Homo sapiens: one gene and its partner. The protein of the gene in region 1 interacts with the protein of each later gene in a biochemical or structural test. Each region holds a gene or a part of one and is shown on either strand. Other genes may lie near its edges.

What was found.
Region 2: the proteins of TECPR2 (region 1) and PDZRN3 interact in a test that uses a peptide from one of them, tested with the Homo sapiens proteins (one large-scale study listed by IntAct).

The regions. Positions count from the first base shown.
Region 1 is NC_000014.9:102,446,441-102,449,940, forward strand, and holds part of TECPR2 (tectonin beta-propeller repeat-containing protein 2), read left to right. Parts: intron 1-3,188; coding exon 3,189-3,429; intron 3,430-3,500. UniProt on the Homo sapiens protein: Probably plays a role as positive regulator of autophagy.
Region 2 is NC_000003.12:73,604,442-73,607,941, forward strand, and holds part of PDZRN3 (E3 ubiquitin-protein ligase PDZRN3), read right to left. Parts: intron 1-3,500. UniProt on the Homo sapiens protein: E3 ubiquitin-protein ligase. Plays an important role in regulating the surface level of MUSK on myotubes. Mediates the ubiquitination of MUSK, promoting its endocytosis and lysosomal degradation. Might contribute to terminal myogenic differentiation.

The sequences.
Region 1 (3,500 bases):
ATACAAAAATTAGTTGGACATGGTGGCACACGCCGTTGGTCCCAACTACTCGGAAGGCTGAGGTGGGAGAATAGTTTGAGCCCAGGAGACAAAGGTTTCAGCCAAGATCACACCACCACACTCCAACCTGGGCAACAGAGCTAGACCCTGTCTCAAAATAAATAAAAATAAAAAAGAGAGAGAGAGAGAAATCCACCCTCTCCGCCTCCCAAAGTGCTGGGATTACAAGTGGAGCCACCACTCCCAGCCAATAGTATTCCTTTTTTCTATTTGATGGATTAGACTTTGCTGTGTTTGAGTGCATTAGAAACATAAAGGACTTTTCATCATAGGAAATAATTTGCAAACTCTTTGTGTAAATAATGCACTTAATTTATTTATTTTGATATTGTTTATATATTTATTATTATAGGCTAAATAAACCCAGTGACATCCATTTGAAGACCTAGGTAATAATGATGTTTAATTATGAACAAATGTGCTGAGAAAAGAGCCCAGATAATAGGTTTGAAAGCCCAACCCAGAATTAAAATTGAGCTGTCTCTGCTTATTCAGAAGGCCTCTAAGTAGATGGTATTTCAGCAAAGACAGGAGAATTTTCCCACGTGCTTCCAGAAAAGGAAACACTATAAGAAACAGGATGAGGGTATAATCAAGCTCACTGTGTGTGATTTGGTCCCAGCAAGAGCGCCTAGAATGAATTTCTCTTTTCTTTTTCTTTTCTTTTTTTCTGGGGCAGAGTCTCACTCTTTTGCCCACACTGGAGTGTGGTGGCAGGATCACGACCCACCTCAGCCTCCCAAGTAGCTGGGACCACAGGCACATGCCACCATGCCTGGCTAATTATTTTGGTAGAGACAAGGTCTTGCTGTTACCCAGGCTGGTCTCGAACTCCTTGGCTCAAGCAATCCTCCCACCTTGACCTCCCAAAGCGCTGGGATTACAGGTGTGAACCACCACCCTCGGCCCTAGAATGGATTTTCAAAGGAGTGTCTACTTTCCCCTTCTTTGGTATAGTTTAGTGTTAGTGTTGCTCCCACAGTCTCCCACTGTGGTAGGTAAGATTTCACTGATAGTCGATGGTCGTGAAATATTTGATGTTTCTTTTTTTTGAGACGGAGTCTTGCTCTGTCACCCAGTCTGGAGTACAATGGCGCAATCTCGGCTCACTGCAACCTCCGCCTCCTGGGTTCAAGCGATTCTCCTGCCTCAGCCTCCTGGGTAGCTGGGACTACAGGCACGCACCACCAGGCCCAGCTAATTTGTGTATTTTTGGTAGAGACAGGGTTTCACCATGTTGGCCAGGTTGGTCTCAATGTCTTGACCTTGTGATCTGCCTGCCTCAGCCTCCCAAAGTGCTGGGATTATAGGCGTGAACCACCGCGCCCGGCCAGTATTTGATGTTTCTGAAGTATCTTGCCCCATTGGTTTATGTTTTATTGTCACCTCAGACTTGCTTTGTTGAAGGCTTGTCTTGCATTGACTGCTCTGAGGTCTTTCAGATGAGAATGTAGAAAAATGAGTTGTGTTTACTCTTTGATAAAATATGTATTCTATATAATATGTACATTATATACAGATGTATCTAATTTATATACTAGGTAATATTTGATAGTCATGCAAATGATTTTAAAATACCTTTTGTGTACTTGTAACCATATATATACATATACATGTAAAAATATACATATATGTATTTTTGTAGAGACAGGGTTTCACCATGTTGGCAGGCTGGTCTGGAACTCCTGACCTCAAGTAATCCACCTGCCTTGGCCTCCCAAAGTGCTGGGATTACAGGCGTGAGCCACTGTGCCCGACCAGGAGTAGGGCATTTATGCCAGTGATGTTTTATGTAATCAAACCCAGCAGGGCAGAAATGTGAGTGAACATCATGGAGAATCAGATTTTCACTCATAAAGAATTTGCCTTATATCAAGCTGCCCAAGAAGAGAAGAGCTTCCTGCAGGGAGGGGTGGTTGGAGAAATGTCTGAGGTATATGAATGCTTTTCAGGAATGTTATAGAAGCAAGCTACCCTTCTGAGCTAGGGTTAGAGTCTAGATACCCAGGATGGTCCTAGTTGATGCTCTTGCCCTGGAGTAATTATTAGTAGTCCCAATTCAGATCATAAATTAGTTCATCACAGCCTTGCATGGTGGCTCACACCTGTAATCCCAGCACTTTGGGAGGCCTGGGCGGGCGGATCACCTGAGGTCAGGAGTTCAAGACCAGCCTGGCCAACATGGTGAAACCCCATCTTTACTAAAAATATAAAAAATTAGCCGGCTGTTGTGGCGTGCGCCTGTAGTCCCAGCTACTCGGGAGGCTGAGGCACGAGAATCTCTTGAACCCAGGAGGCAGAGGTTGCGGTGAGCCAAAATTGCACCACTGCACTCCAGCCTGGGTGGCAGGGCAAGACTATGTCTCAAAAAAAAAAAAGTTCATCACTCTACTTGTGATACCTTTTTAGATGCATATTATGTTTCTAAGTACCGTATACTGTTGTCCATTGGAAATACCTGATTTAAAAGCAAAATTAAAGCTGGGCATAGTGGTTCATGCCAGTAATCCCAACACTTTGGGAGGCCAAGGCAGGGAGATCACTTGAGCCCAGAAGTTCAAGACCAGCCCTGGGCAACACAGGGAGACCTGTCTCTACAAAAAATTTAAAAATTGGCTACATGTAGTAGCATTCGCCTGTATTTGGGAGGCTGAGGTGGGAGGATTGCTTGATCCTGGAAGTCAAGGCTGAGTATGATTGTGCCACTGCATTCCAGCCTGGATGCCAGAGCAAGACTGTCTCAGAAAAGATGGCAAAATTATTCTTTCTCACTCTGATTAGAATGAAAGTCTTCTTAGAAGGGGTGTGAGGGGGTGATAATCACAAAAGTAATACATGCTTGTAACAGATCCATGTTGTATAAAAGTATATAAAATGTGAATATATTCTTCCATACCTTTAAATCCAACCCTACGAAGGAGCTGGAGTTAGCATTAGCAGTTTGATGGCATCCTGCCACATTTTTTTGGTCCTTTCACAAGCGCACACGTGCACATTTGTGTTTGGATGGTCATCTTGTTACTAGAAATGCAGAGGTGTGGACCTGAGCTAGAACCTTCCCTCAAGGCAGAGAGTCTACACTTGTAACTGCTCTGACAGCAGGGCTTTTGCTTGTCTCCTCCTTCCAGGTGAGCATCACGGACTATGTGGTGTTTGACCAGTGCAGCTTATTTCAGACGATAATCCATGCCACTCACTCGGTGGCCACAGCAGCCCAAGCCCCCGTAGAAAAGGTGGCAGATAAGCTGCGCATGGCGTTTTGGTCCCAGCAGCTTCAGTGCCAGCCAAGCCTTCTCGGGGTCAATAACAGCGGTGTCTGGATCTCCTCGGGCAAGAATGAATTCCACGTCGCTAAGGGAAGTCTCATAGGTGGGTGAATTGCTGTAATTTTCACACTGGCTTTATAGGCAGCCTCACTTTAAAGCCAACATTTAAAGAAA
Region 2 (3,500 bases), on another chromosome or scaffold:
ACACAGCTAAAAAGTGGTATGGCTCAGTTTCAAACTGAGGCGAAGCGGATCCTCTTGCACATTACATGCTCTGTGTGCAATATTGTCTCCCACTGAGAAAACTCAAAACACACAGGAATTCAGAAGTCCAACATTTCAGGCTATGGAATATTCCACTAGATGAACTTGAAGAGTCTCAATGGACCACAAAAGATTTATGAACAAGCTTGAGTTCCCTAAGAGGTGATGTCAATATATCAAATGAAAAGAGATCTGTGTTTACTCTGATTTAACCACTTTGCATTTCTTGGCTGGAGAGAAAGAGGGAGATAGGGGATAGGATTTTGGCTTTCGTTTGTTTTGCAAAATACCACATTGCACATAAGTAATAACTCTTAAGGAGTACTAGAAAGTTCAAGCAAAAATCAGAGAGGAAGAAGCAAGAACAAACACCAGCAGTGAGATTAAACTGAGACAGTGGTGAGGGGTGGGGAAGGATGCAAAAAGCACATAAAGCAGGCCAGGCATGGCAGCTCACACCTGCAATCCCAGCACTTTGGGAGGCCGAGGCTGGTGGATCGCCTGAGCTCAGGAATTCAAGACCAGCCTGAACAACATGGTGAAACCCCATCTCTAGCAATACAAAAATTTAGCCGAGCATTTATGGTCCCAGCTACTTGGGAGGCTGAGGTGGGAGGATGGCTTGAGCCTGGGAGGCAGAGGTTGCAGTGAGCCAAGATTGTGCCGTTGCACTCCAACCTGGGTGACAGAGTGAGACCCCCGTCTCAAAAAAAAAAAAAAAGCTAGATTTCTCTCTTAAAAGGCATCTCTTTATTCTTAGTTTGTTTGGCTCCTCTCCTAAGAGAGTTAGTTACAGCTATTTATCAAGGTGAACTAATATGACTTGGAATTTATTTTGTTTTGCTGCCTTGAGTAAGAGAGAAATGAAAGGGGATTGTTTTCATAGCAAGGGTACCTAACGATAAAGTACACTTCCCAAAGGCTTAAGTGAGAGGTTTGATACAACAGACTAGCTGCTGTTTCTTTAGGGTTATGAGGACTAACAAATGAATGATATGATTTTGCTAAGAGTATTGCATACTGATCATGCAATGAAAAGCCTTATGTCAGAGCTATGGCTGGGCTATTTCACAACCCAACCAAGCATCTAACACAGGAATTCCTTGGGAAACACAGACATCATTTGTACTGTATTCTTCTAGTAACTAACAACGTGTGTGCATTGTTGCTCATCTTGGCTTTTTAGCATGTACTCAATGACCTGCCAGATTTTCCAGGCAACAGTGCAGAATACATTCAGGTTTCATGATGCTATTTCTGCTAATCAGGGCAAATTTTGAAAAACACTATGGCAAACACATGCACATGGAATTAAATTTTCCTCTGGGGACCATGCAGGCAGTTCTTGCAAAAAGACCACATAAATTGAAAATACTAATGCAAGCTACAAAATCAGGTCTGGCTTGTACTTAAAGCACCTTTTGTAAAAAAGAAAAAGAAAATAACTTAGACATGCTCTTTGATAAGCACAGGGAAGAACTGTATTCCAGTGGGGTTGGAATGTCATTTTGCACCTGGTGAGTGTGGAAACTGAACACCATCTTCACTGGCTTTAACACAGTAGGTTTCCCAACAATCACTTGGCCACAGGCCTCTCCATTTTGAGCAATTTCCAACAGTAGGCTTTGGTGTGGTTTAGACCTGGGGCAGGGAATAGGTCTTCTTGGTTTGGGTTCTTTTGTTTGCTATAGCTTGTGAAACACCTAATTGTGAAGTGAATCTTAATTTATTAAAGTTGTTTCTCAAAACTGGTAACAAAGGGTGGAGGAATAATTATGAATGTAAACAAGGAACAGCCAACTCATCTGTGCTAAATGGCAAAACATGTTCTTGATGGTAAGTTGTAGAACATGGGCTCATGTTCTGAACCACGGGCTCAAGTCTGACCCTGCTGCTTCCTGGAGCCAAATGTCTAGATATTTGAGTGCAGTTTGCTCCCTCAGTCCCTCCGAAGGCTGGAGAGTACGGAGGACCCCTGGCAGCAAGGACTAAATCAGAACAGCACATGATGACATGCAGCCTGGGATCTCAGACAACTGGTAAAAGGAAAAAATAAAAATATACCAACCTCACGCGGTTCTATAGTTTTTTAAGAATTCCACAGAGCGAATGCAAGAAATACAACCATGTGATGACATCCCTGGGGCTCAATAAAGTGGGAATTATCCCTGTCCCCATCTACCTTCATATTTACAATTTAGTCTCACCATTTAAAATGTTCTTTTTTATATGTATGTTTGATAAGACAGATAATGTTCATCATTTTAACAACTGCAAACACATAATTAAGTTGTTGTTTCTTATAATAAGCCATTGTTTGTTTCTTTTTGAAACTGTGGAATGGGCTAAAAGCAAAGGGAATTTAATCATAAATCTCTTTGTGTCATTCCCTTCAACTGAAGCCATGTGTTGGCCACTCCCGCCCTAGGTAATTTAAATCCCAGACTCAAGACTTAGGCCCTTTGGGGTCAAGCCCTTGTTTTCTTCACCAGGCCTCTTTCTGGCCACTTCCCTGCCCATCCCTCAACTCTTTCCACACTCTGCTTACTTGCAGCTCCCCCAGTTCCCAACTCTGTTCCTGCTCCAGGCCTTGTATGAGCGCCAATCCCCACCCCTGCAAAACCCCAGCGTCCAACCGCTTTCTTCTAGCTCAGGGGTCTTCACAGGTGAATGCGTGTAACACAATGCATTGGAATGGCAGGAGAACATACTTCACATTTTCTTCATAGTCATATTTTAATTTCATTATTTAAAATACTCCCTTTTGTACGTAACTTTTTATAAGGCACATAATGTATTCGTTTGGTACTGTGTACACATTATATATACAAATAAAATATGGTCCTCTGATCTAGCAAATTCCTGTTCAACCTTCTGAACTCAGCTCCAACGGCCCCTCCCCAGGACACCTCCTCCCGCAGGGTTAACTCATCCCAGGGCATCATTAGCTGTGGGCAGGCACAGAGTACATCAATGAGAGCAGTGCTATGCTCTCCCAACTCATCAGTCTCTCCATCTGGAGGTGAGCTCCATGAGGGCAGGGCACACACTATTCCTATCTGGATGGCTGGCATCTTCTCGTCCTTTAGGTTTCTGTTTACTACTATCTCCTCTTGTCTTTCCTGATAACCCAAGCTAATGATACCCTTTGCTTCTTGGCTGGTATCTGCCATGTGCCATCCTCCCATTTTTTTTTCCTTCATCATACTTCTTCCAATCCAATCTCTAATTATTGTATTCACTTGTTTCTTGTCTGACATCCCCACCAGGACTCAATGACCACAGGGCCTCAGTCTTTCTGGCCTCCATTGTATCTCCTGGCCCTTAGCAAACAGCCTATGTTCAATACTTATTTGTTGAATGAAAGATTTTTGTTTTCTTTTCCTTTAACTACTTTCCTTTTAAGCTAATAAACAAGGAGATGGTCAGGAAAAGAAAAG